Linked DNA regions of Homo sapiens. The protein of the gene in region 1 purifies or fractionates together with the protein of each later gene. This does not show direct contact. Each region holds a gene or a part of one and is shown on either strand. Other genes may lie near its edges.

Region 1 (3,500 bases):
GGAATTCACCATAGCTTGCTGTCTTGCTGTGAAAATCTATGTTAAATTGTGATGCTGCCTCCCATTTGCATCTGGCATATTCTTTTCATTCTTCTTTCTTCCCACTTAAGGTAGGTTAAAGGCAGCTTCCTTCAATTCAATGCAACGCCACCAGAGCTCAGGCCACTCCTCAAACGCACGGGCTCACACCTTCCACATACTTGCAAAGCCTTTCAATGAGTATGAGGGAGAACAAAGGATATATGTAATACAAGTTAATGAATCAAAATCAAAAACAAAGCCCAGCATTGCCTAGAGACCCTGCCTTTCAATCTTCGCTTTCTCAAAGCCACCATTCTCTCTTCTGATATCCAAAGTCACTAACATTTATTGAATGGCCGTGACTTCCCAAATATTGAGAAACTCTAGCTATCATGACAAATCTAGAGGGCAGAAATTACTGTCTCTGTTTAACAGATGAGAAACTGAGACTCAGCAACATCAATTAATCTGTCCAGAGTTGTCCAGCTAGTAAGTAGTGGAGCTACATTTCAAACCTAGGTCTTAGTGCTTTTAAAACCTTTGCTTTCCACTGCAGAGTATTGCTGCCTGAATGAAAGAAGCAAATAAAAAAAATTACACATTTTTAATAAGCAGAAGTAGTGATGAGATTAAAGCACTCCTATTCTGATTAACCTTCTAACCCCTCTCCACTTTTGAAAGCCTAGAAACAAATAAGTAAGCTACCGTGGGCTAAAACTTGGGTATTTTTCTTTAGTTTTTTTAAATTATGATATCATATATATAATATTACATAATGTATGTAGCTATTTTTATCATTACTGTTTGTCACTTCTTCGGTTGTAGGGATTAACTTCCTGTATGCTGCAACTCATGAACTTGGCCATTCTTTGGGTATGGGACATTCCTCTGATCCTAATGCAGTGATGTATCCAACCTATGGAAATGGAGATCCCCAAAATTTTAAACTTTCCCAGGATGATATTAAAGGCATTCAGAAACTATATGGTAATATTTATTATTTCAAATAAGAGGATTTCCCATTTTCTTTTTAGAGTGGGGTAGGAAAAGAAAGGCTGGGAAATGGGTATTTACCTGGAAAACCACACTGGAACTCATATCAAAAAGCCTATTGAGGGGAGGAATTGGGGACCTTAGATACTTAAAATATAACTAGGCTGTAATATACTATGAAGATGTTGATTGTGAGTTTCAGTAACATAGTATCATGTGGTAAAATTATGCAAATGATATTGTCCAGATTTTCTTCAAGCTGCCACCCACTGCTCTTCCTCTCTCAGTTTAAATAGTTTAGGAGAGTGTCCCCTGTAGGGGTGGACTGAAGGGACAAAACACCTTTCTTCATAGCTGCCCACTCCTAAGGATTCAATCCTAGATAATTATAAGTGACCCTGCTCTTCCTGTTTGCACGTACATGTAGAGAAAGCGGTTAACCACGGACAGAAACTGCTTATCATTCCTGGTCTTGATACTTATGTATATCCCTTGCCCCAGTCTATGCTTTTTTGGTTTAATCAAGTTCCAAATTCAGTTTTTTTAAGTGCACTGATTTGGATTTACTGTATTGAGTCAGCCAAAAGTAGTATTTGAGAAAGAAATCAAAGGACAAGAATAAAAAGCTCTGTCTCTGGATAAAGATAAGGAAAGTAAGATTCAAAGAGGCTAAGTGGACTGTCCAAGGTCATGTGACTGTCGAGTGCTTGAGCCATGATTCCAAGTGAGGGCTATGTGACTTCATACTTTTTCTACGACATATTCCTGCCTATCACTACCCAGTAAGCTTTTTATCCTAGTAAGAATAAAAGAATACAGAATGACATCTTTAAATCAGCAGATATAACTAAACCTAGCCAGTAAAAATATCAGGATGAAGAGAATACACTGCAAAAAGATCACTTAAGATTCTTCAAATGATCACGTGAGCAATGAAAGTGCTTCCACATAATAGAGGACTGTCCTCAGGGGAGAAATATTCCAGTAAGACACTGGATTTAAGATATCAGTTCAACCTAGCATTTGCTATAAATCAGCATGTCCCAAACTGTATTCTCAGAACACTAGTCCTACAGGGTGATTCCCAGAAAAGGAGGCTATGGAGAAATAAGTTCAAGAAACACTACCTACTGTATTTCAGGTGTATAGACTATTAGAGAGTATGGAGTATTGAACAAATGTTTAACTCAGTGTTTCCTAAATTATAATCCTTTTTATGGGTCTCAATGAGTCCCATAAACTAGCACTTCAGAGAACACACTTTGGAAAATGCTGTGTAACTATTCCCAAAAGTTACGACGTAAAGAACCACTGCTGTCCAAAAGATTCACAAAATGCTGACTATTGTTCGTAAAGTTATCATGAACAAAACTGAAAATACTATCCTCCCCTTACATAAAACTGTGGAACTCATGGAATATTCTATAGCAGTCTATAAATATTTTAGAACCCTAAGAAAAATACAAAGAGACTAAAGAAGGTCTGAGGCATGCTGATTAAATTTAACAGGAAGAAAAGAGACTAGTGCATTAAAACCTTAAGTATTAGACAAAAGGGCATCTCTGGTCAGAGTTGGAAACAAGTAACTTCTGGACAAATGGAAATAGAATTTAATTATGTGGGCTGTATATGTAGGGAGTTAATCTAAAAAGTAATATGAGCAGAAAACATAGATTCCAAAGAAAGTGATTAAGATACAAGATTCCTAATGCTATACTCAGAATGATAAAAATAATAGCTGGCTGGGCGCGGTGGCTCACGCCTTTACCCAGCACTTCGGGAGGCCAAGGTGGTTGGGGATCGCTTGAGGCCAGGAGCTCGAGACCTGGACAACATGGTAAAACCCCATGTCTACTAAAAATACAAAAATTAGCCGGGCGTGAAGGTGCATGTCTGTAGTCCCAGCAACTCAGGAGGCTGAAGCATGAGAATTGCCGGAACCCAGGAGGCAGAGGTTGCAGTGAGTCAAGATCACACCGCTGCAATCCAGCCTGGGCAACAGAGTGAGACTCCATCTCAAAAAATAAATAAATAATAGCTAACATGCATTGAGTACTTGCAGTATCCCAAGACTTCACATGGATTAACTCATTTAATTCAAGAATTCAATGAGACATTATTATCCACATTTTACAGATTTGTAATCTGATGCTAAGAGAGGTTAAGTAGTAAACTACCTAAGGTCACACATCTAGTAAACTGGTAGAAACAAGATGCAAAGGTACCTGAGCCCTGGGCCCACACTCCAGTCAATCCTGCCTTCTTAGCCTCTGGAGGTTGTTCTTCAGAATCTTTGTCCCAGGGACAAGAAATGGTCTGAGTGAATAATAGATTATACTTTCTGTGACATTTCCTTTGCCTGTATAATCTTAGGATGGTTTTTATGCATTTTCTACATATCAGAATGTTCTTTTTTTTTCTCTCAATAGGAAAGAGAAGTAATTCAAGAAAGAAATAGAAACTTCAGGCAGAACATCCATTCATTC
Region 2 (3,500 bases), on another chromosome or scaffold:
AGCTTAATTCAAAGAAAATTAAATAGTGCTATGTTAAAAGTAGGCAGAGTTCTTCACATTGTAGAAGTCAGTCTGGAGACTTGATTGTTGTAAATGTCCTTTTGTTTGTTTGTTTTACTGTTTTGTAACATAATCTGAAGGGTTTTATAAAAATAAATGCAGAGAGGTGAATTTAGCTTCACCACTCTTATTTGCATATCTGATCGCTTAGTAAATGGTAGTAATATTAATAGGATGCTTGCCTAGAATGAAAGAAGGGAATTTTTATAAGGAGGGTATGATCACTATTCACCCAGAATATAAGTATTCACTCTTACATATAAATCAACGCCTCATGTATCATTGGTTGATTTTGATAAAAATTATGCAATTTCAAGAAAGCAGAAAGCTCTTTATTCCAACATGTTTTTACCCTCACTGACAAAAATGACAACTTGAAAAATTATTTAGAAACTTGCATATGATAATCAGGGGTGGTATTTAGTGTCATTAGGGACAAAGTTTAGGGTTTTTTTGAGAATGTAAAACTGTACATGTTGGTTTTGTTTTAGCACATATGACAGGAACAAACTAAAACTATTCAATCTGTTGCCTTGTTCTGATAGATGTGTATGGACTCAGAAAAACATATGATCTACACTTTTGGTGGTAGAATTTTGACTTGTAATGGCAGCGTAGATGACAGCAGAGCCAGTGAACCACAATTCAGTGGCTTGTTTGCTTTCAACTGTCAATGTCAAACCTGGAAACTTCTTCGAGAGGACTCCTGTAATGCTGGGCCTGAGGACATCCAGTCTCGAATAGGACACTGCATGTTATTCCACTCAGTAAGAACATTCCGTACATTGCGTAAATGTTATTTTGTCATGTATATCTAGATAGGAAAAGAAGTGGTGAAATCTAATTCTTTAGGAAGAGATTAGTGTAGCAATGACAGAGAAAGACAAAACTTCTTTAACAGTGAACTGTTTGCTAATTATGAGACTCTTCCCATCAACCTGGTAATTCCTAAATAGTTACTACCTGGCTACCAACCTGGGCAATCTTATGACTAATTTCACTGCTTATGTAGATTTTGTAGCTATGTTCCTTTCTTATGCCTTTCCACTTACGTCTCTTAGTAATTAGAAGGACAATTTCTTACTCTGTTCTTATTTTCCCTTCTGCTATTCTCCATTAAGTACAAAGAATTTAAGATTTGATTTTATAGAATTAGAATTTAAATGTATCAGCAATGGTCAGGAGCAGTGGATCACTTGATTCCAGAAGTTTGAGACGAGCCTGGCCAACATGGCGAAACCCCATCCCCAGTAAAAATACAAAAATTAGCCTGGCGTGGTGACCTGTGCCTGTAGTCCCAGCCTCCCAAGTAGCTGGGATTACAGGCATGCACCACCACGCCCGGCTAATTTTTTGTATTTAGTAAAGACAGGGTTTCACCATGTTGGCCAGGCTGGTCTTGAACTCCTGACCTCAGGTGATCCACCCGCCTCTGCCTTCTGCGGTGTTGGGATTACAGGCATGAGCCACTGTACCTGGCCACTTTCTTGATGCTCAAATTTTTCTCTTTGGCTAGTAGGAGCACCCCCCACAACATATTTATGTATCTTTTTTTGTAAGAGAAAAATTAAATTGTGAATTCATACTGATATGTCTGATTCAAATAAAATATTTTTTATCTTAATGTCTTCTATTTTGTAACTTTATATCTTTTCTTTTTACCCCGACTGGAGCGCAGATCGTAGCTCACTACAGCCTTGAATGTCAGGGCTCAAATGATCCTCTCACCTTAGCCCCCCAAGTAGCTAAAACTACAGGTGTGTACCACCACACCTGGGTTTTGAGTAGTAGTAGTAGTAGTAGTAGTAGTAGTAGTAGTAGTAGAAGAAGTAGTAGTAGTAGTAGTAGTAGTAGTAGTAGTAGTAGTAGTAGTAGTAGTAGTAGTAGAAGTGGAAGTGGAAGTGGAAGTAGGAGACAGGGCCTTGCTGTGTTGCCCAGGCTGTCTCAAGCAATCCTCTCACCTTGGCCTGCCCAAATGCTAGGACTACAGGTGTGAGCCACCATGCCTGGCCTATTTTTGTGTCTTTTAAGGTTAAAATCCTGCTTCATAACATTAGTTGCTTTGTCTGTCTATAATAGCTTTCACAGTAAAGAAAACTAACAACAGAATCACTGAGTGCTGTTTAACGTTGCTTTCTGATTATTTTTCTGTTTAGGATTTAGACTTCTAGGGATGGGTAGTCAAAAAGTATGTATTAAAATCATTAGAAATACTATTTCTGTGTCTGAGTATATCTTTATATACAGATAGGTTTATTTGTTGGATTTTTTTTGCCCAAATTTTAGATTTTTTTTTTGAGTTAATTTTGTCTTCTAATTAAATAAAAGCATATACATTGTTCTAAAGTCAAAACCATACATCAAGGTATTATTTTTGGAGAGGTCTTCCTGCTCTGTTCCTGCCACTATAGGTAACTGTCTTTTATTAGGTTTTGGTTTATCCTTCCTTTGTTTTTCAAAAAAAGAAGCAATCTCTATTCTCGCTCTCGCTTGCGTGCTCTCTCTCTCACTTTTCCCCTCTCTCACATTCTCTTTCCCTCTCTCCCTCTCTTTTTGTCTGATGCACAGATATTCCTTCTTCTCCATTCCTACACAAAGGAAGAAGGAACCTGTATATATTATTCTGCACCTTGCTTTTCTTCTTTAACAGGATGTCCTAGAGATCCCCTTTTAGCAATATGTAGAGAGCTTCCTCTTTCCCTTTTATTCCAGCATAGTACTCCATTGGGATCTGTTATAAAATTACTTTTGTAGAGGTTTAAGTTTTTAAAGGATCATTCTGAGTTCTTCATGGAAGTGATAAGTTACTCCTTTCTTTTTTTTTTTCTTCTTTTTCAGAAAAATCGTTGCTTATATGTATTTGGTGGCCAGCGATCAAAGACCTATTTGAATGATTTCTTTAGTTATGATGTGGACTCTGATCATGTAGACATAATATCAGATGGCACCAAGAAAGACTCTGGGATGGGTAAGGGCATTGAGTGATTTCTTCTCTCATGTCTTAACTACTTTAGGTAGAAAACTGCAGTTCATTCTCTTTTCTTTCTAATCATTTTTCACCCTTTCTTTATTTCTTTAATTGAGTAATTCCAAGTAAGAGAAAGAAAATTCTACCAGCTTATTCAGTTCTATCTATTTTTAAATATGGGAATTACTATTTCCTTCAAGCAGAAAATATGTGAATTTCTAAATGAATTGTGTGTGTGCTTGTTGGGGGGCGGGGTAGGAAGAATCAATATCTTAAAAACTTTTTATTCTGTGTTTGCTAATTTTTTTCATCTTCTATTTTCACTGTAGTGATCTTTATATTAGGCACTAGCATAGTAGGGTGTGTGTCTTAAGGGGGGAACTTCATGGGATTGGTAACACCTTGTAAGTTTAAAAGCTCAGCATCTAGGAGGTTATTAGTAGTGGAATGGCTGGTTTGCTTAGATTATGCA
Region 3 (3,500 bases), on another chromosome or scaffold:
AGGATCTTAGAAGTTGTATGCCAGGAAATGGGATGAAGACCAAATGTATATCTCACAATAAATATTACAGTAATGTTGAAGTAATTATTTGAAATATAAAAGTGGGATGGAAGTATTTTCTTTTCTTTTTTTTTTTGGAGGCAGAGTCTCGCTGTATCCCCCAGGCTGGAGCGCGATATCGGCTCACTGCAACCTCTCCTTCCTGGGTTCAAGCGATTCTCCTGCCTCAGCCTCCTGAGTAGCTGGGATTACAGGCGCCTGCCACCACGCTTGGCTAATTTTTGTATTTTTAGTAGAGACGGGGTTTTGCCATATTGGTCAGGCTGGTCTCGAACTCCTGACCTCAGGTGATCTGCCTGCCTTGGCCTCCCTAAGTGCTGGGATTTCAGGCGTGAGCCACTGCACCCAGCCAAAAGGATTTTCAAAGACGCTATCTAACATTCTTTTTTCTTTTTCTTTCTTTCTTTTTTTTTTTTTTGGGTCAAGAGTTTCACTCTTGGCGCCTGGGTTAGAGTGCAGTGGTGCGATCTCAGCTCACTGCAACCTCTGCCTCCAGGTTTCAAGAGACGATCCTGCCTCAGCCTCCCGAGTAGGTGGGATTATAGGTGCCCACCACCACATCTGGCTAATTTTTGTATTTTTAGTAGAGACAGGGTTTCACCATGTTCGCCAGGCTGGTCTCAAACTCCTGACCTCAGGTGATCCACCCACCTCAGCCTCCCAAAGTGTTGGGATTATAGGCGTGAGCCTATAATATTCTTAAGCTTTATATTCAGAACTCAGCAGTTTCCGAGTCAGATAATTAAACGTTTGTTCCCTTAGATTTATAGCTTCTAGGTTTTGCGTTTTTTTCTTAATTGATTTTATTTTTTAGAGCAGTTTTGGGATCACAGTAAAATTGATGAGAAAGTACAGAGGTTTCCTGTATTATCTCCTGCCCCAATACATGCTTTGCCTTGCCCATTGTCCACGCCCGCCCCCCCCCCCCCCCCCACTAGAGTGGTACATTTTTTGAGATACAGTCTCGCTCTGTCACCCAGGCTGGAGTGCAGTGGCGCCATCTCGGCTCACTGCAAGCTGTGCTACCCGGGTTCACGCCATTCTCCTGCCTCAGCATCCCTAGTAACTGGGACTACAGGCGCCCACCACCACGCCTGGCTAATTTTTTATAGTTTTTTAGTAGAGACGGGGTTTCACCGTGTTAGCCAGGATGGTCTCGATCTCCTGACCTCGTGATCCACCCGCCTCGGCCTCCCAAAGTGCTGGGATTACAGGTGTGAGCCACCGAGCCCAGCCTGTACATTTCTTACAATTGATGAATCTACGCTGATAGATCATCATCATCCAAATTCTCTGGTTTACATTAGAATTCACTCTTGGTGGTGTATCTTCTTTTTTTTTTTTTTTTTTTTTTTTGAGACGGAGTCTCTTTCCGTCGCCCAGGCTGGAGTGCAGTGGTGCGATGTCGGCTCACTGCAAGCTCCGCCTCCCGGGTTCATGCCATTCTCCTGCCTCAGCCTCCTGAATAGCTGGGACTACAGGCACCCGGCTAATTTGTTTTTTGTATTTTTTGGTAGAGACGGGGTTTCACCGTGTTAGCCAGGATGGTCTCGATCTCCTGACCTCGTGATCTGCCCGCCTCGGCCTCCCAAAGTGCTGGGATTACAGGTGTGAGCCACCATGCCCGGCCATGGTGGTGTATATTCTGTGGATTTGGACAAACTATAAGGCCTGGTTTTGCTAACAAGAATAGTTGCCAGGCGTGGTGGCTCATGCCTGTAATCCTAGCACTTTGGGAGGCCGAGGCGGGCGGATCACCTGAGGTCGGGAGTTTGAGACCAGCTTGACCAACATGGAGAAACCCCGTATCCACTGAAAATACAAAATTAGTTGGGCGTGGTGGCGCGTGCCTGTAATCTCAGCTACTTGGGAGGCTGAGGCAGGAGAATCGCTGGACCCTGGGAGGTGGAGGTTGCGGTGAGCCGAGATTGCACCATTGCACTCCAGCCTAGGCAACAAGAGCAAAACTCTGTCTCAAAAAAGAAAAAGAAAGAATAGTTAGCTGGGCCAGCGCAGTGGCTCACGCCTGCAATCCTAACACTTTTGGGAGGCAGAGGTGTACAAATCACTTAAGCCGAGGAGTTTCAGACCACCCTGGGCAATATGATGAAACCCCATCTCTGCTAAAAATACAAAACTTGAGGTGGGAGGATCACCTGAGCCTGGGGAGGTCGAGGCTGCAGTGGGCTGTGATCATTGCACTCCAGCCTGGGTGACAGACTCTGTCTCAAAAAAAAGAAAAAAAAAAAGTTATCTTTTTGTCTAGTTTCAGGCTCTTGTCTTTTTTGAAATAACTTTCTAACTAATCTCCATTATAGTTTCTTTATCATTGGTTTTTGGGTTTATTTCACAAATAATATGTGGATATTGTGATTGTAAAAGATTCTAGGACTGCAGTTAATTTTTTATATTTCTGCCAAAATGCCACTTAAATCATTGCTTTGGAAATATCCTTTCTTTGTTCAGAAGTCATTCTAATACCTTCATCTGGAATTATAAGTGTTGATTCCTCCTTCCCTGTGGTACTACTGTGTTGTATTATAGTCAAAAGACTGTTAAGCAGTGGTACCCAAATATATCTTTGTCCTCTTTTTTTTTTTTTTTTTTTTTTTTAAATGAGACAGAGTCTTCGCTGTGTCACCCAGGCTGGAATGTAGTGTCGCGAGCTTGGCTCACTGCAATACAACCACCTCCTTCCGGGTTCAAGCGATTCTCCTGCCTTATCCCCGCCGAGTAGCTGGGATTACAGGTGCCTGCCACACCACGCCCGGCTAATTTTTGCATTTTTAGTAGAGATGGGGTTTCCTCATGTTGGCCAGGCTGGTCCTGAACCCCTGACCTCAGGTGATCTGCCCACCTCGGCCTCCCAAAGTGTTGGGATTACAGGTTTGAGCCACCGCACCCAGCCTCTTCGTCTTTTTACATCTGGAATGTCATCTCTACCAAAACTTTATCATTCTAGTCCAAACTCAGGTGTACTGTCTATAAATACCTAATTTCCTTAAGCAAAATTGATTTTTTGCCATCCTTGGCCAGTTTCACTTAAGTGCACCCTACAATGCCTTTTAAGTTTTCTGTCCCATAGTGAGTAAGGAGTCTCTTTCCCCAGTGCATATATACAGTTGAACTGTAATTGAATAGTGCTTCATTTATTACAGTTGGGTAAATTGATAGAATATAGCATTCTTGGAAATCGATACTCTGGTTTTTCTTTTTTTCATACTGCTTGAATGAGCAAGTAACATTTCAGAGGAAAAGATCTATCGGTGGTGGTTCATTATGTAGGTCAGGATTTTAGTTTCATTTGTGCATTGGATTTTAGAATATCATGACTATCTCTAGTAATCTACAGAGTTAAACTATTTACATCTTGGCAATTTCTTGAATTAATTAGGGAGATCTTTCTTTACCCCCAACCTTTTATTTGGATAGAGTTTTCT
Region 4 (3,500 bases), on another chromosome or scaffold:
TATTAAATTGACTGAACCTCCGAAAAGCGAATTGTCAAAATCTTCACTCTCAAGATAAGTGATATTATTTGGTTTTCGATTTTTTAATAAAATCTTAAAGGCAAATAATTTTTCATTTAAAGCTTTAAACTCCAAGCAAAAACTTATTTTCTGCTGTCTTATTCCAGTTTAACTTACATGTGTAGAGCTGGAGCAATTCGGACAGATGATAACTGTATTGTATTAAAGGTAAGCTAATTAATTATCTTTAAAATGTGAAAATTATCCAGTTATGTGTTAAATATCAGTATTGATACTCATATTTCATTTTACACATTTATCATTATGATATATGTGCATGGCGTAGAATAATATTGAAAGACCATGCTTTCTTTTCAGTGGATGTCATATAGTTTTTAAAAATTGATTTTAGATGTGTTTCGAAAGTCAGCGTGAAATAATTATTTCATTGTCACAGCCTTTCATTTTATGGTAATTAGGAGGATGTGGAAATTGTAAAAGTGTACAATTCAGGTGAAACAGAAAATATATTTCGTTCTTGATTGTCATTAAATTTGTACTACAGTTTTAGAGGCAGACGATTTGCCACTTTTGCAGAAAAAGACTTTATATCATTCTCATAGCTGATAATCAAAAGGCATAATGAAAGAGAATAAGTAGATAACACATGAAAACAAGCATTGTCATTGTGATATGTCATATACAACTTGAATTTAGAAAAACCTGGAGAAAAGACCAGCCCTAAAAGTCCTAAAACCTGGATTCTGGTTTTAGCACTCCCACCTCTGACTGTACATCCTTTATTCTTTTGATGCCTCGGACTCCAGATTATGAAAATTGAAGCAATAATTCCTGCTCATCTATGCACAGGGTTATTGTGAGGATAACAATATATTAAATACATTAAAATGTCTTATTAGCTATAAAAAATTAAGTATAAGTAAATTGATGATGTGTCATTTTATAAATATGAGATCTCACATTATCATTGTTCAAAAGGTGATCCCAAGGATAAAAGAGCACAAAGAAGACTAATATTTGCTTTAGTCTTTGGGGAAGAGAATTAATTTAATGAGATCTGAACACTCCCTAAGTAAACAACTCTTCATAGAGTGCCACGGACTTCCATAGCATTTATCTTGATTTATTTACTTCTCTAACCTTCCTCTTTTTCTGCATTGGTAAAATGTTAGTAGTATATTCTTCACATAGTAGTCATGAGCATTAGATTACATAATTCATGAATTTATGGTATCAATAAATATTAGTAACTAGTAATGTTAGGGAAAAAAGAATAGGGCCTTCCCCTTGGAAACCTAGGGTTGAATTATAAAGCTTCTACTAGCCTAATAGGAAATTAGTAGTGAACGATGAAGTGCTAAGCTCTGTGGTAAAAGATATAATAGGAACTTATTATATATAAAAGAGCAAAGCACAGTTGCCTGCAGTATTTGAGGAAGACTTTCTATAATGATAACATTTCAATTTATACTTCCACATTGTCCTTTCAAGTGGATCCGTCAGGCTTAGAAATAGTAAATGTCGTTCGAGACCAGCCTGGCCAACCTGGTGAATCCCCATCTCTACTAAAAATAAAAAATTAGCCAGGAGTGGTGGTGGGTGCCTGTAATTCCAGCTACTCAGAAGGCTGAGGCAGGAGAATTGCTTGAATCCAGGAGGCAGAGGTTGCAGTGAGCCGAGATCGTGCCATTGCACTCCAGCCTGGGCGACAGAGCGAGACTCCGTCTCAAAAAAAAAGAAAAAGAAATAGTAAATGTCTGTAATATTTTTATTGAGAACCTAATGTAGATAAGTTACCAAACCATTGCCAAGATTTTTGAGGGACCTCAGAAGTAAAATTGGACTCATGGATACCACTGCTAATTCCAGCAAGTTACTGGGAAAACCTAGCAACTGTGATACATTTCAGTTGCATTATAGTAGAACTGGTGGAATCTGAGTAATGGTAAGATCACTGCAGTTTTAAAGCTGTATTTTGTTTTGGCAACTGTAGGTATGACTCCCCAAACCAAAAAATAAACGATATTACTCACTAAGGAAGAGATAGCATACTTTTCCTAAGGCAAAATCATTCCTGATTAAACTGCTGGGTCTTTTTTAGGTAAATAAATAGATAGATAGGGCAGAACCATCAGACATGATTTGTTAGGGATTCTTAAATGTCTTTTACAAAGTTGTACAATAAAACTTGTCTTATCGGTCCCAAAAGCCTAATTAGAATTTGTATTAATATACTTTGACGTACGAATAGAGTTTAATGTGCCAGTACAAATTATTAATGTGTACTGAATTTTGCTTGTTTTTGCATTTTAAAAAAATCTTTTATTCTCTAGAAGTCAGTAAAGGAAATATATGATCATAAACATTACTCCTGATAAAAGCTATTGAGTTGATTCAGTCACTATATGCTTAAGCTTTTACCTTTACCAAAAAGCAAATAATTAATCTCACTACCTTTCAGACATTACCTTGTTTGGTTCGAATGTGCAGTAAGGAGAGATTACTAGAGGAGAGAGTTGAAGGAGCTGAGACACTTGCCTATCTGATTGAACCAGATGTTGAGCTACAGAGAATCGCTAGCATAACTGATCACCTCATTGCCATGCTTGCTGATTATTTCAAGTATCCCAGCTCAGTGAGTGCCATCACTGATATTAAAAGGGTATGTTATTTTCCTTTTTTAGCAGCTCAAGGGAGATTTTTCTAAAGTTTTTCTTACTGTTCACAGTTTTGAACCAATTGATAACTACAGCTTAAAGCCCTTTTAAATAAAGGTTCTTTTATCTTTGGTAACATAGATAATATTGCTTTGTGAATTTTTGAATCCAAGTTGTTTAATGTTTATTGTCAGAAAGTTTTTACTGAGCAGATAAGCAATAAAGAAAATTGCATCCTAACTCCCCAACTAAACCTCAAAAGTAGTGGATTCTCCAAGCTGGGTATTGACATAACCGTATAATCTTATTCTTGGTCATGGAATCATCTCTGTTGTTACATTCTCATTCTTTAGGTCAGGAGTAATCTTTTTGTTACAGGAGACTAAGTTGTCCCATGTTACTTTCCACCACAGTCTATTTTGTTACCTTTCCCTATCTTCTCTTTTTCCCAGTTTCATACTGTGCTTTGGGCCTGCTAGTGACAGCTAAAGCATCATTTAATCTTGAATTTGGGACCAAAAAGGCCAAATTGTGCTTTTTCTGAAAACCTAAGTTCCTTAGAATAGATCGGTATTTATTTTGACTTGTTGCATCTCAGCCTGTTTGCCCTATCCATTTCTTTAAGCATAGGAGATGAACATTCTGTAAGAGAAAGTTTATTCAAGGAGGTCATGGTAGAGAGAACATTGCCTCTTAATTAGTAGCCAGTACTGTTTCATGAATGTAACTGTATTTTTCATGCCAGTGGTTCCAATGGTAACTATTCTCCTTTTGACCTCTCCCTCATGCTTTTGAGTTTCAAAAAACCTCATTTGGTAGGCA
Region 5 (3,500 bases), about 45 Mb from region 1:
GCTGTCAGGGTGAGCTGGCTTTGGCCCCCAGCCAGGGCTGCTCCCAATTCTGCTGCCTTGCTGTACTTCTGCTGCCGCCACTGCCTCCTCCCCCAATGTCTCTCCCCAGACCACTTTAATTTCCATCTGTCAGCAGCTTGTGGAAGGACAGACTACCACTCATGCTCTCTCTCCCTGCCCCCTCTTCCTGCTTGGTATTGACTCACCTGCCCCACTCTCCTCCTGCTTTAATCCCAGTGGGAACCTGGGGCCTGGCTTCCAGGCACTGCCGTGCCAGGCTTTCCCACACCTCTGTGCGTAGTATGAGTGTGTGTGTGTGGGGTGGGGGTGTGGGGATGCGGGGATGCGTGTGTTTGTGTCAGGTGTGGCTCTGTGCCGTGCCTGTAGATGTGGTGGGTGCGAGGTCCATCTGGGGGAGTGACAAACAGCGCACAAGCTCTCTGCCTGAGTGTGTGTGATGGTGATGAATGTGAATGTGTCATTTTGGGGAGTGGCCGCTGGACAGGGCGGGCAGTATGAGTTAGTGAGAGAGTGTGTGGTGTGCTTGTGCCGTGTTTGTATTTTGTTTTTAGATGGGGTCTTGCTATGTTGCCCAGGCTGGTCTTGAACTCCTGGGCTCACGTGATCCCCCTGCCCTGGCCTCCCAAGTAGCTGGAATTACAGGCGTGAGCCCTGCACCCCATGTCCAGCTGTATTGTGTTTTGAGGAAGCAGCAGACAGAAGATGCATATGCTGCATGGAGGTCCAAGGTGACCCAGCCCCTCATTTGCTTGGCAAACATTTGCTTAGTCCGGCGCGTAGCCAGGCTCTGGGTCAGGTGCTGGGGGCATAAAGGCAGAAAGGGCCCCGTTTTTGCCCTTGAGGAGCTCACCGACAGGCTATGGGGACAAAGAACCACAGGAAAGAAGCAGGAACTGGCATGGATTGGAGCCCAGGGCTGGTAGGGCTGAGGCGGCCATGGTGGCTGGGAGGGGGCAGGGCAGCTTCGGAAGCAGAATTGAACCAAGGGGACAGTACCACCAGGGACGGTGTGGTGCGGGGAGCTTTCCAGAAGAGGGAGCAGCTCGTTCAAAGCCAGCAGCATGTGAGGGCCGGGTGTCTTCTGATGGTCCCTGGTTGCTCTGTGAGCCTGGGGAATGAAGAGGCATAACGTGGGGGCTGAAGACAACATGAGTCCGGAGAGGCAGGTGGGCCAGTACCTGGCTCACCCCAAGGAGTGTGACTGCCCGAGCACGTGGCCCTGGGAGGGAACACATTGCTAGCATGCAACAGCAGCAGGAATAATGGCTGCTGCTTCTGCGGTGCGTGCTGACCAGGACTGTGCTAAGTGCTTTAGATTTTTCTTTCATCCTTGCAGCGACTCCGTGCAGTTAGAGGAGCCTGAGCTGTTTCCAGGGGAGGGGGCTCACCCGAGGTCTCAGGGATTTGAACCTGCCAGACTGGCTCAGCTCTTCACCTGTGTGCTGTGTTGCTCAAGGCCCTGACCGTGTCCTTGGAGTCTGGAAAAAGCATGGGAAGGAGGGCAAGGGAGAGTTTGGGGGCTGGGGGAAGGAGCTTGTGAAGTAGGCTTCAGGGCAGGGAGATGGGGCCTTACGATGATCTCGTTCTCTCTCTGTCCCCTTTACAGCCCTGGCAGGTGCCCGGCCCGCCCCCCACCCTCCGGCTCCCAGGGCCTGCTGGAGGAGATGCTGGCAGCCAGCAGCTCCAAGGCGGTGGCTCGGAGGGAGTCAGCGGCCTCGGGCCTTGGGGGCCTGTTGGAGGAGGAAGGAGCCGGGGCAGGTGCTGCCCAAGAGGAGGTGCTGGAGCCTGGCAGGGACTCTCCACCCTCCTGGAGGCCGCAGCCTGATGGTGAGGCCAGCCAGACAGAAGACGTGGATGGCACCTGGGGCTCTTCAGCAGCCAGGTGGAGCGATCAGGGGCCAGCACAGACTTCTCGGCGACCCTCCCAAGGCCCTCCTGCCAGATCCCCCAGTCAGGACTTCTCCTTCATTGAGGTCAGTGGAGGGTGAGCCCATGACAGTGGGTGGGTGAGGGCGATGCAGCGAGAGCCCCATTCCTGGAGCTTCCCTGAGCAGTCCCAGTCCAGGAGGCAGAAAGCGGGTTGTAGGTGCGTCACGTGAACGTGAAGCTCCGGCTGCAGGAGGGGTCCAGCTCCTGGTCAGCTACTGTTGAGGGGCTCCCGTGGGATGAGGCAGCAATGGCAGTGGTGTCACCATTGCCCCAAGCAGGACACCGAGATCCTCGACAGTGCCATGTATCGGAGCCGTGCCAACTTGGGGCGCAAGCGTGGGCACCGGGCCCCGGTCATTCGGCCTGGGGGTACCTTGGGCCTGTCGGAGGCAGCAGACTCGGATGCACACCTGTTCCAGGACTCTACAGGTAGGGCTGATGTATTATTTGGTGATGTCTCTTGATCTCTAGGGCATTAGGCCAAGCTTTTGCAGGGGTTATGGGTTCGGGGAGTCTGGGTGTGCTGCCTTTTCTGAGCCCCTTTCCCGGGCCTTTGCAGAGCCACGGGCATCTCGGGTGCCATCTTCAGATGAAGAGGTAGTGGAGGAACCTCAGAGCCGCCGGACACGGATGTCGTTGGGCACCAAGGGGCTGAAAGTCAACCTCTTTCCTGGCCTGAGCCCCTCAGCCCTGAAGGTACCATCTGATCATTAAGCAAACATGTCCAGCCATCTGGCCAGGTGGCCACCTTGCATGCTGTCTTTCTTCTCTTCATCCATCAATTCATTCCCCTGTCCCCCTCTCCCATTCCTCCTCTCACTCTCCTCTCCATCGAGGGCTCCAGAAGATCCCTTTGTGCCCCGCCGGGCCCTATGCTGTGTGCCAAATGGGATGGAAAGAAGAACAAGATGTGTTCTTATTCTGGAACCTCAGGGGCAGTGGGAGACATGATGCCCATAATTAGCCTGGATGAGAGAAGAAGTTTAGGTGTCCCTGAGGAGAGGCACAGATAAGGGCTGGGCCTGTTCAGAGAGAGAGGAGTTATTTCCTAACAGCAGAGTGGAGGGGGATGGGAAGGGAGGGTGGATTGGAGAAGGCCTCTTGTATGTATTTGATCTTAGCCGGCGGCAGGCACAGGAGTTGGCTCCTGGAGCTGGGATGGTGGGGTGGCATTGCAGGCAGAGGGAACAGGGGTGGGAAGTCACCACTGGCTTTGTCCCACCCAGTTTGTCTGAATTCAATCCTGCCATATGTTTTTGAGGACAGAAAGGTGTGCAAGGCATAGCTCAGTTCTGCGGGAAGTGCATCTCTAAGTGACTTCCCATCCTTTGGGGTGAAAGGACTGCAGAGGGGTCTCTGCTTGATTCTGGGGACTGCACACTCTTGAGATAAGGTCTTACCCCCTGAGAGTCCTACTGCCTGTCCCTCTACTATCTATCTGCTTCTGGACTTGCTTCTCAGGCCAAGCTGCGCCCCCGGAATCGCTCAGCTGAGGAGGGAGAGCTGGCTGAGAGCAAGTCGAGCCAGAAGGAGTCCGCGGTCCAGCGTTC
Region 6 (4,061 bases), on another chromosome or scaffold:
CTCTCTAGTTCTGCTTTGGAAGCTTCAATCTTCTGATTTTTAAAATACAGTATTTGTATTTAGATGGGAAAAGAATCCACTAACTTGTAAATATGAGATATCTAGGCCAGCAAACTGAAGGTAAAGTCTACCCATTCCCACCTTATGGCTTACCTTCATTTGCACATTACTTCTTAAAGATAAATTTAAAGGTCTATCAAGAAATTTCTCATAAATTTTTCACAGAAGTACTTTGGTTGGGTTCCAAGAGTATTCAGAATGTTTTATTTCTAATGCTGCCACAACCCATTTAAAAAAGTTTTCTCTGATTAATACTGTCTACATTTTTAACCTACAAGTGAAACGGTTCACTATATTTCCATTAAATTACTTGTTGGAAGCTGAAAAAGACATTTGAGTCACACCATTCAGTTTGATATCTGTAAAACTTCAGTTTGTTTCCTCTATTTTTCATGTTGAAGAAATAATTTCGCAATTTCAAATCAAAGCCAACACTGCAGTGAGGAGAGCTTTTCTACTTTATTACAAAGAGAAGAAGCCTTTATGTGGTCAGAAAATACAAGATTGATCTTTTTTTCTCTTCCTATGAAACGCTGCTGTTCAAACAGCCAGAGTGAATTGTCTCAGTTCACTTCTTTTAAGTCCCATCACATTCACTTGGGTATGGATGTCCTTGGCTGCTGAAAATCTGGCCCTTTTAGTGCACAGGGCGACAAAGTCCCCTGACCAGCAGTTCCAGAATGTCCCATTTTCATATATTGCATCCATGCACACCTCCTAAAAATGAGGTACAGCAGGGCAAACATTTTCCAAAATAGATGTCATATATATAATATATACACATTCGTACATACATACCTTTATTCATGTGATGTCCAAAAATTTAAAAAAAATGTACACATTTATTACAAAATCGTAACAAAGACTGGACAGTGTTTTGCTCATTCTGGAAAGATGAAGCTCAGTAATAACACAACCCTGGAAAACCATCCAGAGATTGTGGCAATATCTTTCTTCTAAACAGTCAGATATTCTTGCATTAAGCTTGGCGAAACTGCCTTTCAAAAACAGAAGGGGAAGTAAAATGAAGGAAGCAGACCTCTTGCTCATCTTTCCAAATGAAATACGAGAAGGATCTTCACATAAAAATGCACAAACATTTGTTATTTTATTACCAATAGTGCTACAATGAACAATGCAAAATTTGTGGTCTAATTTTCTTGAGTCTTTTGGGGGTTTTCTTTTTTACATTTTAGAAACTATGGTAAACTTCTGTCAGTGTATTTGCTTGTCTTTACAGACTCAAGTCTGTCTGCTGGCAAAAAAGGAAATAAATGAAAAAATTCAGACCCTGCTCAAACTAGAGAAAAACAAATTACAAATTTAGTTGTTGGGCAGCACATAATTAGTAAGGCAGGACCTCAAATGGTGACCTTTTGCGTAAGCCAATTGCCAGATCCTCAAGGAATTAAAACCAGGGTGCCTGAGCCACATCAGTTCTGCAGTTATGTTGAGTATTGTGCTGAGACAGCCATACCCCAAGAAAAGGGAAGTCTTTTTTTTTTTTTTTTTTTTTTTTTAGAAGGCTTGCTGAGCAGGGTTGTAGTTGAAGGTGGATGGCAGGTGAGGCCGTTCTTCTAATTTGTCATATTCCAGATGGAACTCCTATAAAAACAAATTCAAGAATTTAGATATCTTCCCCTTTTCATTTTACATTTGTCAAAATACATTTTACTATAAAAATAAATAAAATACCCAATATATATGAATCAACATCAACACAGATATACCAACTGTTTTTCCTCTACATAAAATACAGCTTGAAGAAAAATAATGTGCTGTAGTTTCTAACCAATGAGTACAAAAAATACAGACAGGCTTTCTGTGTGTAAGTCAAGAGACTACTAATGGACCACTTGACACTGAAATGTTGTGTATTGTTTTTAACTTAAAAAAAGAGGGGGCAATTACTGTATCTCTGAATCACTGGAAATTACAGGATATTTAAAATAAAGCCCCCTTCAACGAAGTATAAAAACCTAAAGATTTTGTCCATGAAAAAAGTTTAGAAATAATTTTCCAAATTGTCTTTATTACATTTATATTAAAAAATAAGCAGGGCCGCGCACAGTGGCTCACGTCTGTAATCCCAGCACTTTGGGAGGCTTAGGTGGGCAGATCACGAGGTCAGGAGATCAAGACCATCTTTACCAATCAACATGGTGAAACCCCGTCTGTACTAAAAATACAAAAATTAGCTGGGCGTAGTGGTGCACGCCTGTAGTAGCAGCTACTCAGGAGGCTGAGGCAGGAGAATCGCTTGAACCTGGCAGGTGGAGGTTGCAGTGAGCCAAGATTGCACCACTGCACTCCAGCCCAGATGACAAAGCAAGACTCCGTCTAAAAAAAAAAAAAAAAGGAAAACACATAAAATTATTCTAACCTCATTAAAATCTGGGGAAAATAATGAACTTAAAACTCACACATCACTAGACTTGCATTTCACAAACCCAAAACCCTGACTCAAATATAAATCAACTGCCACCGAAAACTAGACAATGGTTCTGCTGTAGGAACATTTGAAAACTAGATAGCAGCTCACTTTAATCAAACTTTCAAAATACTGTATTAACTTCATGAGTTTTAAAATTTAAGAATGGTGACATAATTTCTTCATGATACTTCCCACCCAAGATCAAGAATAGAGATGCAGAATAGCTATGTATATTAGAAAAAAATGCAAACAACAAATACCTCTGCAACCCCAATAAGCAAGAGGCTCTAAAAGCCTCTTACCAATTCTACCATCTGAATTAGCACAAATTACTGCATAATCCAACTTAAAGAATTATGAAGCTTAATATGTATTATGTATTAAAGATTAAGGCAACAAGTGACATTAGCTACCATGGGTTAACATATTTTACCTTATCTGTCTGGTTTCAAACTGATTCCATGATGAGTATTTCCATTATTAAATTAAAATGAAAACCTAGACTATAATGACCAAATTTTAAGATGGAACACCAAGTATTTAAAATTTAAAGATATTACACTTAAATAAATTTAAAGATATTACAGACCTAACAGCAGAATTTATTGAAAGCCTAGTATGTGCTAAAATTAGAGATACAGCTAATTTTATTCTAATCTTTGTAATAATTCTGTAAAGCAGATATCATTATTTTCATTTTGTACCTGAAGAAAATGAGGCTTACAAGTAACTTGGACAAGTCATCAGTAAGCGGCACACCTAGCATTAGGATCCAGACCCATGTGACAAAAAGCCTCCATGTGACAAAAAGCCTGTGTCTTTTGTAGTGTAACACATTATTTTTAATATTTTTAGTCCAAGATCCAAAACAGATTCATTTACTTCATTACAAGGCAATCCAGAAATGCTGAAAGAATTCAGTCCCCTTCTCTCTTGGTATAAGGTGAAGAAAAAGGAAAAAAAAAATCAGTCCCCTGAGAGTTTATAAAGAAGGTACACCATGGTGACTTTAGCCTGAAAAGGTTGCCTTCATGTGACTGGTACAGTAATTAAGACACAGAGGTTATTTGCTTATCAGTAAAAATTAGCAAACACCAGAATCACCACCACAACCATGACATCCTGCCCTAATACACTGTGTAGCACTACTCCCCCTCTCCCAGCCCTAGCTAGGAATTAAAATAATTTTATTGCTTGGTTCAAGTTGACTATCTGAATTCGTGAAGAAAATTTGTTATCATTCTTCTGAAATTAAAATTGGCATTTTTGTTTTCAAAATGTGTAGTTACAGGGAAAAAAAGTCTAATTGTAACTTCCACAAAGTGGTAAGTTATACTGAGTAAGTTAACTAAAATTTTTCACATTGATGAACTACAATGTATGACTAGGAATTCAAACTAGATTAACTTTATCAATGTACATTTTCCCCCAGAAAAATATAGTTTAAACCTAAGCAGCGTAAATAATTTTGATATAGAGATTTAGAAATTTTGATATAGAGATCAGAGATTTAGAAATTACATAGGTAAAATTTTGCCTTCCACGTTTTAAAATCTTGTTTTCCACG
Region 7 (3,500 bases), on another chromosome or scaffold:
TTAAATTATTTATTTATTTAGAGACAGGATCTCTGTCTGTCACCCAGGCTGGAGTAGAGAGGCATGGCTCACTGCCGCCTCGACCTCCTAGGTTCAGTTGATCCTCCCACCTCAGCTTCACAAGTAGCTGGGACCACATGCCTGCTCCACCACACTCAGCTAATTATTTTTATTTTTTGTAAAGACAAGGTCTCCCTATGTTGCCTGGGCTACTCTTGAACTCCTGGGCTCAAAGGATCTTCCTGCCTTCTGCCGTAGTACTAGGAGTACAAGCATGAGCCACTGTGCCTGACCAATTTATTGTTTTTAAAGAGACAAGGTTTCACTATGTTGCCCAGGCTGGAATGCAGTGGCTATTCACAGCCATGATAATGGCACACTATAGCCTTGAACTCCGGGGCTCAAGCAGTCTTCCCACTTCCCTCTCTGGAGTAGGTAGCTTTGATACTGGCACACATCCCTATACCTGGCTATTTTTAAGCTTTTTATTTTAAATATTCAATATATGGATGACTGTCAAAGGCATTGTTGAGCAAAAGAAGCCAGACACATGGGAATTCATACTGTATGTTGATTATGTGAAGTTTAAGAACAAGCAAAGCCAATTACTGGCAATAAGTTGGATTCGTGGTTAGCTCTGAGGAAAGAACATTGACTGGGGAAAGGTACAAGGGAATGCTGGAATCCTGAGTTGGTAGAAATATTGCTTTTTTCTGTTTTTTTTTTTGTTGTTGTTGTTTTTTGTTTTTGAGACAGTCTCACTCTGTCACCCAGGCTGGAGTGAAGTGGAGTGATCTCGGCTCATTGCAACCTCTGCCTCCTGGGTTCAAGCAATTCTCATGCCTCAGCCTCCTGAGTAGTTGGAACTACAGGCACACACCATCATACCCAGCTAATTTTTTGTATTTTTAGTAGAGATGGAGTTTCGCCATGTAGCCCATGCTAGTCTTGAACTCCTAAGCTCAGGCAATCTGCCTGCCTCCACCTCCCAAATATTCTGTATTTTATACAATATTTTGTATTTTAATCTGGTTATAGTACATAATGTGTACATAGGTAAAAATTCAAGGTACACTTAAGATTAGTGCACTTAACACACTTCACTGTGTGTAAGTTTATATTAGGTTCCTATATAACCTGCTGCTATAACAAATTACCACAAGCTAGAAGGGTAGTGGCTTAAAACAATGGAAGTTTACTGTTTTATAGTTTTGGAAGTCACAAGTTCTAAATGAGTTTCACCAATCTAAAGTCAATGTATCAGGAGGGTCATGCTTTCTCTGGAGGATATAGAGGAGAGTCTTTTTGTTGCCTTTTCTAGCTTCTAGAACTGCATTTCTTGCATTCCCTGGATTATGGCCCCCTCCCTCTTCAGATCCAGCGATGTGGCATGTTCAAATCTCTTTCTGCTTGTCACATTGCTTTCTCCTTTGTGGTAAAATCTCTCCCTACATCTCTCTTGTTGTTGTTGTTGTTGTTGTTGTTTTGTTTGTTTGTTTGTTTTAAGAGATGGGGTTTTCTCTGTCGCCCAGGCTGGAGTGCAGTGGCATGATCATAACTCACTGCATCCTTGAACTCCTGGCCTCAAGCAGTCCTCCCACCTTGGCCTCCCAGAGTGCTGAGATTACCAGCATGGGTCACTTTGCCTGGCCTTCTCTACATCGCTTTTAAGGACACTTCGTTATTACATTTAAGGCCTACTTGGATAAACAGGGATAATCCCCCATCTCAAGATCCTTAACTTAATCACGTCTGCAAAGTCCCATTTTTCATTTAAGGTAACATTTGCAGAGTTTGGTGATTAGGGCCTGGATATCTTTGAGAGCCATTATTCAGCCTACTACAGTGTTATAACCCCAATAAAATAGTAAAATAATTCCACAGTTCATTTTGATGAGCAGCCAAGAAAGAGTATCATTATCGTGATTGTCTAATTTAAATTAAACTAATATTTTAATATCTCTTTTATGTAAGAGCTAATGAGCTCAAGTTGAGGGAAAAATTGAGGCCACATATAAGCTTCACAGCCAGGATATGTTTTATTACTGTTAGATAATCTTCAAAGAGAAGCGTGAAAATCTTATTTCTTCAAGATCTTTTAAGAACAAAAAAGGCCTTATCTCAGCCGAGTGCAGTGGCTCACGCTTGTAATCCCAGCACTTTGGTAGGCCAAGGCAGGTGGATCACGAGGTCAGGGAATTCAAGCCCAGCCTAGCCAAGACGGTGAAACCCCGTCTCTACTAAAAATACCAAAATTAGCCAGGCATGGTGGCAGGAGCCTGTAATCCTAGCTACTCGGGAGGCTGAGGCAGGAGAATCAGTTGAACCAGGGTGGCAGAGGTTGCAGTGAGCTGAAATGGAGCCACTGCACTCCAGTCTGGGCGACAGAGTGAGACTCCATCTAAAAAAAAAAAAAGAAAAGAAAAAAGAAAGAAAGGCCTTACTTCATCTGGAAGAGAGGAGGCATAGCTGAATAAATCATCTTGGCCTATGGAAAAGAGAAGAGCCTTAGATATTCAAATGAGGCTTGGATCTCAGCTGTGCCATAGTAACTTTGTCACTTGGGACCTTAACCTGGTGCATTATTGATTAACAGTTATACCGGGCACATAGTAGGTACTCTGTAAATGAGAAGGTCTCTGAGTTTTTAAGAATTTGATAATTACACGGAACCTACCCTTGTATGTAAAGTGAGAATAATAATGGTACCTACCTCATTGATTTATTATAAAAATAAGATAAGCATGTAAAGCCTCTAGAAAAAAAAACTGGTACAAAGTAATGTTCAACATGGTAATATTTATTATTCTTTGTACTATACATATATGATAAAGTTGTACATAATATACAAGGATCCCTGCTTGCTCAATTTTCTGACTGATAGTCATGCCTGGGAAAATGAGTAGAAAATGAGAAGATTAAATCTGAGCAACTTTATAAACTCTTCGATTTTGTTTTGCTTCAGGTTGCCACATTCATCCTCCAGAAGATCTTGTTAGATGACACTGGTTTGGCTTATATATGTCAGACGTATGAGCGTTTCTCCCATGTTGCCATGATCTTGGTGAGTTCTTTCATCTATCCCCTTTACAACTACTTCTCATCACAAAGCTTAATCTCTTTATAACTGGCATTGAACAACTTCAGTCCTCTGACTAGAACTAACAATTTTGGAACCTTTTATGATTCTTGGACTATCTGATCTCTGATGTCAATTAGAATTTGTTTGTGTTTTGTGTGTTTTTTCCAACCCCTCCCCTTATTTTGGGGGAAACAGGGTAAGATGGTCCTGCAGCTATCCAAAGAGCCTTCTGCCCGTCTGCTGAAGCATGTAGTGAGATGTTACCTTCGACTTTCAGATAACCCCAGGTAAACATTTATAGGATGTATAGGACTTTAGGGAAATACTCTGCTGAACAGTTTCCTAATCTCATGGCATAGCTCCTGTGTCTTTAGGACAGGGAAGTGGGGATATAACTGCATTTAGTTTGTCTGAGACA

The links.
Region 2: the proteins of MMP7 (region 1) and MKLN1 purify together in Homo sapiens (affinity purification with mass spectrometry; 3 studies listed by BioGRID and IntAct, with this or other methods). This does not show direct contact.
Region 3: the proteins of MMP7 (region 1) and CNOT1 purify together in Homo sapiens (affinity purification with mass spectrometry; 3 studies listed by BioGRID and IntAct, with this or other methods). This does not show direct contact.
Region 4: the proteins of MMP7 (region 1) and ARMC8 purify together in Homo sapiens (affinity purification with mass spectrometry; 3 studies listed by BioGRID and IntAct, with this or other methods). This does not show direct contact.
Region 5: the proteins of MMP7 (region 1) and TNKS1BP1 purify together in Homo sapiens (affinity purification with mass spectrometry; 3 studies listed by BioGRID and IntAct, with this or other methods). This does not show direct contact.
Region 6: the proteins of MMP7 (region 1) and CNOT2 purify together in Homo sapiens (affinity purification with mass spectrometry; 3 studies listed by BioGRID and IntAct, with this or other methods). This does not show direct contact.
Region 7: the proteins of MMP7 (region 1) and CNOT9 purify together in Homo sapiens (affinity purification with mass spectrometry; 3 studies listed by BioGRID and IntAct, with this or other methods). This does not show direct contact.

Annotation. Positions count from the first base shown.
Region 1 is NC_000011.10:102,520,748-102,524,247, reverse strand, and holds part of MMP7 (matrilysin preproprotein), read left to right. Parts: intron 1-846; coding exon 847-1,008; intron 1,009-3,443; coding exon 3,444-3,472; 3' UTR 3,473-3,500. UniProt on the Homo sapiens protein: Degrades casein, gelatins of types I, III, IV, and V, and fibronectin. Activates procollagenase.
Region 2 is NC_000007.14:131,442,876-131,446,375, forward strand, and holds part of MKLN1 (muskelin), read left to right. Parts: intron 1-605; coding exon 606-827; intron 828-2,898; coding exon 2,899-3,028; intron 3,029-3,500. UniProt on the Homo sapiens protein: Component of the CTLH E3 ubiquitin-protein ligase complex that selectively accepts ubiquitin from UBE2H and mediates ubiquitination and subsequent proteasomal degradation of the transcription factor HBP1.
Region 3 is NC_000016.10:58,619,827-58,623,326, reverse strand, and holds part of CNOT1 (CCR4-NOT transcription complex subunit 1), read left to right. Parts: intron 1-3,500.
Region 4 is NC_000003.12:138,239,301-138,242,800, forward strand, and holds part of ARMC8 (armadillo repeat-containing protein 8), read left to right. Parts: intron 1-167; coding exon 168-228; intron 229-2,482; coding exon 2,483-2,683; intron 2,684-3,500. UniProt on the Homo sapiens protein: Component of the CTLH E3 ubiquitin-protein ligase complex that selectively accepts ubiquitin from UBE2H and mediates ubiquitination and subsequent proteasomal degradation of the transcription factor HBP1.
Region 5 is NC_000011.10:57,300,953-57,304,452, reverse strand, and holds part of TNKS1BP1 (182 kDa tankyrase-1-binding protein), read left to right. Parts: intron 1-1,357; coding exon of another isoform or gene 1,358-1,484; exon of another isoform or gene 1,485-1,588; intron 1,589-1,627; coding exon 1,628-1,994; intron 1,995-2,228; coding exon 2,229-2,379; intron 2,380-2,509; coding exon 2,510-2,646; intron 2,647-3,411; coding exon 3,412-3,500.
Region 6 is NC_000012.12:70,351,433-70,355,493, reverse strand, and holds the end of CNOT2 (CCR4-NOT transcription complex subunit 2), read right to left. Parts: intron 1,666-4,061; coding exon 1,579-1,665; 3' UTR 501-1,578; downstream 1-500. UniProt on the Homo sapiens protein: Component of the CCR4-NOT complex which is one of the major cellular mRNA deadenylases and is linked to various cellular processes including bulk mRNA degradation, miRNA-mediated repression, translational repression during translational initiation and general transcription regulation.
Region 7 is NC_000002.12:218,589,339-218,592,838, forward strand, and holds part of CNOT9 (CCR4-NOT transcription complex subunit 9), read left to right. Parts: intron 1-2,965; coding exon 2,966-3,064; intron 3,065-3,277; coding exon 3,278-3,369; intron 3,370-3,500. UniProt on the Homo sapiens protein: Component of the CCR4-NOT complex which is one of the major cellular mRNA deadenylases and is linked to various cellular processes including bulk mRNA degradation, miRNA-mediated repression, translational repression during translational initiation and general transcription regulation.